Linked DNA regions of Homo sapiens: region 1 is linked to region 2. Evidence: fine-mapped expression QTL. A gene starts in region 2. The other region holds a variant in brackets. All regions are shown on one strand. Distances are from middle to middle.

Evidence for each region.
Region 1: its variant is fine-mapped to the expression of MAOA in blood mononuclear cells (TOPMed, PIP above 0.99). The same link has a PIP of 0.9 or more in T cells, monocytes and whole blood.

What each region holds. Positions count from the first base shown.
Region 1 is chrX:43,727,283-43,730,205 of GRCh38, reverse strand. MAOA (monoamine oxidase A) reads right to left here. Exons shown (of 15, transcript NM_000240.4): 6 at 1,892-2,033. Among named protein-coding and RNA genes, the nearest start is that of MAOA, 72 kb to the right of the region's middle. The variant G/A (reference allele first, on the strand shown) is at 1,443.
Region 2 is chrX:43,655,101-43,658,023 of GRCh38, reverse strand. MAOA (monoamine oxidase A) reads right to left here and starts at 1,725. Exons shown (of 15, transcript NM_000240.4): 1 at 1,610-1,725. The coding sequence starts at 1,682. RefSeq lists an enhancer at 2,832-2,891 and a silencer at 2,823-2,923.

The sequences.
Region 1 (2,923 bases), 72 kb before region 2:
TTTTTTTTTTTGAGACGGAGTTTCACTCTTATTGCCCAAGCTGGCATGCAATGGCGCAATCTTGGCTCACTGTAACTTCCGCCTCCTGGGTTCAAGTGATTCTCTTGCCTTGGCCTCCCGAGTAGCTGGGATTACAGGTGCGTGCCATGACACCTGGCTAATTTTTGTATTTTTAGCAGAAATGGGGTTTCATCATGTTAGCCAGGCTGGTCTCAAACTCCTGTCCTCAGGTGATCCACCCTCCTTGGCCTCCAAAAGTGCTGGGATTACAGGTGTGAGCCACCGCGCCCAGCCAGAAGATTCCTAACAGATTCCTCAATCATACTCCTCCAGAAAACTGCATAAGCAGCCACGCAGTGATTTTTGCACTTTTGTAACTGGCTACTGTTTTAATAACAACACCAAAGTTCTTTATAAAAAATATTCCTGGCTAGGCATGGTGGCTCATGCCTGTGATCTTAGCACTTTGAGAGGCTGAGGCGGAAGGACTGCTTGAGCCCAGGAGTTGGAGACCAGGCTAGGCAACAAAGCAAGACTCTGTCTCAAAAATTAAATTAAAAAAAGGAAAAAAAATTCCCAGAGTGGTTCAGACCTAAATTCATGATTTGTCTTTCCTCAAGAAACCCAGACCATTTAACTTATAATCTGGTCTGTTTTCTAAGAGGTACTTTGAGTTTTAGTGTGGTGGAAAGACCACGAACTGTTTCTGTCTTGTTCACTGTCCACCCCTCCAGGTCTAGTATTTGTTGAATTAAATTACAGGATAAGCCTAAGTTCTTTATAAAAATATTGTGACCATGGTTTGAGATTAATCATCTGAACCATATTTTCCAAAAGGTCATGTAGAATTTGGCTAGAAGTATCCTGGCTCCTCTGAATGAAGGAAACAAATATCAAATGTAAATCAAAATACCTCAGAAAGTAAAATACTGGCTAAAAGGAGTAATCTGTCATCTCTGCCTGTAGGTAAAGACATTTAAAAAATGCAACTGTCCTGCATTTGTCAAGGCTAAGGGTCAAATGGGCAATGAGTCTTGGTGTCACAAGAACTTGGGGATTTCCGGTGATCTCCTCAGGAGAAGAATAATTCACTTGGCAGAGAAAGACTCTATACCTTGTACTGTGCACTCAGAATTCAGGAACTCAGAGAACCTAAGTTAGAAGTAAACTGCTACTAATTAAACCTCATACCATCCAAGCACAACATTTATAGAACAGAGATACCCATTCTCTTTGGATAACAGAAAGGGTTGAAGCAGAGAATCTCAGAGTCTGGGGAATTAGGATTCTGGCTTCGCCATGTGTCCAGCCAATGAACGAAATGAATTCACTTATTAATAAAGGAAATGATATGGAAACTGGGCAAATTCAAGTGGGTAGCAAAAACTAAGAATCCAAAAGGCAGAATTTACTATTGCAAGAGTGGCCATAATCACTTGCGT[G/A]AATTAGAAGGAAGAACAGTCACTTCCCTTCTGTAGCAGTTAACATAAAAGAATCACTCTGATAAACAGATGGGACAGAAACCTTGTGTCTAGAACAGAGATGATTTTAAGTACAATAATTGTACAATTTCTAGAATTTTTTGGAAATTATTTTAGGAATTTAGCTTCTCCTACATAAACAGCCTAATTTTACCTGCTACCAAAAGGAAGGAACTTAATTCTCAAAACCTAATTAATTCAAAATGAAACATTCTTTATCTGTGAACTCCTTTTCAGGAGTGACAAAAGGAAATGAGAAATTTTTTTTTCAGAAAATCTTTTGAGATCATTTCATGCTGCTAATTATTCATGTTTCAAAATCCTGAAGCAACTATTAAAGACACTGCCCTGGGAGAAAGCAAAATCACAGATGAAGCTCTTGTTTCAGAACAGACACATACACACCATACCTGGCCACCATTGGTGACAGAGAATATCCGAGTGGTGCCCCCGCACTGCTTCACATACCACAAGAACCACAGGGCAGACACTTCGTGAGGCTCAGAGGTCACATTGATATTCACAAAAAGATAAGCAAACCGCCTAGCAGTCCTGTTCATAGAACAAAAGTGGAAGTCAGGTGTCAATATGTACAGGAGTCAGAGAATGTCATGTTTTTACAACACGATTTAGTGTGTTCAGAAAGTTTTTCTGTTGCAATTGAAAAAAACTCTCAAGGATTCAATTTCTGAAGGAATGCATTCTTTAACTCTTGGAGAAACTAACATTTTCTCCTGCTTAAGAAATTATGAGTTGAAAAGGAGCCAAGGGTCCAGCAAGACAGCCAAACAGAAACAGCTCCGGTCTGCAGCTCCCAGTGAGATCCGCGCAGAAGGTGGGTGATTTCTGTGTTTCCAACTGAGGTACCTGGTTCATCTCATTGGGACTGGTTGGACAGTGGGTGCAGCTCATGGAGGGCAAGCCGAAGCAGGGCAGGGCATCGCCTCACCTGGGAAGTGCAAGCGGTTGGGGGATTTCCTTTTCCTAGCCAAGGGAAGCTGTGAGAGACTGTCCCAGGAAGAACGGTACACTCTTGCGCAGATACTGCGCTTTTCCCACAGTCTTCACAACTGGCAGATCAGGAGATTCCCTCCGGTGCCTGGCTCAGTGGGTCCCACACCCATGGAGCCCAGCAAGCTAATATCCATTGGCTTGAAATCCTCGCTGCTAGCACAGCAGCCTGATATCGACCTGGAATGCTCGAGCTTGGTGTGGAGAGGTGCATCTGCCATTGCTGAGGCTTGAGTAGGCAGTTTTATGCTCACAGTGTAAACAAAGCCACCAGGAAGTTCGAACTGGGCGGACCCCACCACAGCTCAGCAAGGCCTACTGCCTCTCTAGATTCCACCTCTGTGGGCAGGGCATCTCTGAACAAAAGGCAGCAGCCCCAGTCAGGGACTTATAGATAAAACCCCCATCTCCTTGGGCCAGAGCACCTGGGG
Region 2 (2,923 bases):
AATAAATACATAAATAAATAAAGAGAAACAAGCTGAAATACTCCTTTTTCTTACTCTCCACCAGGAGCTGCTTTCCTCTGATGCTCCAACATACATGTATGTTTTTGCTGGTACTGGCTGGAACTGGCAAAGCAACAGTTCATGCCAATCTCTTCTCTTGGCCTGTTCAGGATAAACAATGTTGGGTTCAGATAAAGCTATCTCTACCCAACATTAATTTGTAGCATGTTCAGAGTCTCCTCGAAAGATTTATATATAAAAATGGCTACTGTGGGGCCACTCTACTTACTCCCTCCCATCAGCTTTCTCTTTCTGAATCAGATCCTGCAGGGATAACTCAGAAATTATTAACACCTAGTAGGGGGAGGATAGGTCAGTGTGGTATTCTAGCCAGGGATGAAAGGCAACAAAATTCCTAATTTTCAAACATTTTACCAATGATGGCAACATAGGCGACAATATATCAATCATGATGAGGCTTCCAGGAAGATATTGGAAAGCCTCATGCACCACTCACTTGGTTAGCCACAAATCCAAGCCAGGACCAGGGGCACCCTGGCCCACCAACTGGCTCATCAGAAGACAAGATTCAGGTGGTGGGAGCTCTTAGTGAAAGGAGGAAGGAGGATACAACAGGGCACTCAGCCCCTGCTTCATAAAGGGATTCTCTTTGGACAATAAATGTCCTACACCTTCCTGCAAGTTCATATATATATATACACACACACAGTTCATATATATATATATATAAACACAGTTCATATATATATATATAAACACAGTTCATATATATATATAAACACAGTTCATATATATATATAAACACAGTTCATATATATATATAAACACAGTTCATATATATATATAAACACAGTTCATATATATATATAAACACAGTTCATACACACACACACACACACACACACACACACACACACAGGAATAGTTTAAGAGCTCACCCCCTCTTCTCCTCTTTTTTTTTTTAACCTTTTCTTAAAGGAGTCTACCTCCTTCCTCTTCACCTACTAAATTTTCTACGGAAAATAGAGAAGAGCAGGACTGGAATAACACTACTGCTCCCTCAATACTACAGAAATCTGTATCCTGATGTTCTGTTTAGGGCAAAGGATATGAAATCAGTGAGGCAAAGCAGCCACCTCAGGAATTAGTACTGCAGGTCTTAAATGGGAGAAAATCGTTCAGCCACTTACAAGCTAGGTGATTCGACCTCAAGAGAGTTATTGAAACTCCCCAGACCTCAGTTTCTTGGTTTTGCAAAACGGGGATGAATTTAGTTCCCACCTCACAGGACTGTTGAGGACTGAGAAAATCCACGTAAAGTGCTAAATACAACTGCACAGCAAGAGCTAATTAAATATTAGTATTTAATAGTAGTAGTAGTAAAATTATTGTGTCTGCCTCCCCCAGTCACACCACCAGCAAAACTGGCACAACCCCCACTCCTACCTCGCAGGATATGGGGCCAAGCCATGGCTACACTACACTCTCGCATGCATGAGAGACCCCCAAACACCACAAGAGCTACTGTAGGTTCCCCTACCCCTCACTGGCCAGGGTCCCCCAGGCCACCGCTACGGTCCACACTGACCTGAAATGCCACCTCCGATCACGACTACGTCGAACATGTGGCCCGCGATACTCGCCTTCTCTTGATTCTCCATGCTTTGGCTGACACGCTCCTGGGTCGTAGGCACAGGAGTGGGGACGGCAAAGGGTGGGAAGGACCCTTCTATCAACTCCCCCGGGGAGCCCGGGGGCGGAGCCGATCCTTCTTTTGATACCCGGGGGGAGCCGGGCACTGTGGGCGGGGCGAACCCTTTTGCTGATACTCCGGGAGCGCCCAGGGGCGGAGCTGATGTTTCAGCTGATACCCGGGGGGAGCTGGGCACTGAGAGCGGGGCGGACCCTTGTACTGACACTCGGCGAGAGTTATTAGGTTTAGAATGTCCTTGTGTCGGCAGCTGGAAAGGATTACTGGGTGCAGGAGGTTCTTGTATTGAACCCCGCGGAGTGTCAGGCACTGAGGTGGGGGTAGACGCCTGCCTTGACACTGGGGGGATGTTATGGGGTGCAGGAGGTGCTTGTGGCGACACTGGGGAAATGTTATTGGGTAGAGGTGGTCCTGGTACCAAACCCCAGGGGAAGCTGGACACTGAGGATGCGGCAGACCCTTGTACTGACACTCGGGGGTGTTACTGGGTGTAGGAGGTGCTTGTATTGACACTTGCGAAAGGTCATTGGGTATAGGAGGTCCCCGTACAAATATCCAAGTGTAGTCGGACACTGAGGTCAGGTTGGAATCCGGGGGCAGGGTCGGTCCTTTTACCAAACCCCGTGGGGTGCTGAACCCTGAGGAGAAGGCAGACCCTTGCAATGACTCTACGGGGGAGTTTACGGGCGGGGTAGGTCCTGTTACTAATACCCAGGGAATGCCGGTGTCCTGATTGGAGGCTGTGACGGCCCCATCGGAGGAGTTCGAGCTGGTGGTAGACTTGGGGATCCGACTGCTCGGGTTGTAAGCGCTGAAACCCCGGAGGCCACTCTTGGAGTCGGAGTCAGTACTCTCGCTAAGACCGGTAGTGCTGATTGGGGAGTGTATGCTGGAGCTCCAGGAGGCGGCCTCGGCAGTTGAGGACGTGCTCCACTGGGAACTGGCTAGCGGATCCGAGACGGACCGCCACTCAGAACGGACGCTCCATTCGGACAGGCTGTAGGAGGTGTCGTCCAAGCTGGAGTCCGGGTTCGGGACCTGGGCAGTTGTGCCCCCGGCTTCGGGCGGGCCCTCCGCCTTGCGCTCGGTGCCGGTGCCGGTACTGGTGCGGGTACTGGTGCCGGTGCCGGTACTGGTGCGGGTACTGGTGCCGGTGCCGGTACTGGTGCGGGTACTGGTGCCGGTGCCGGT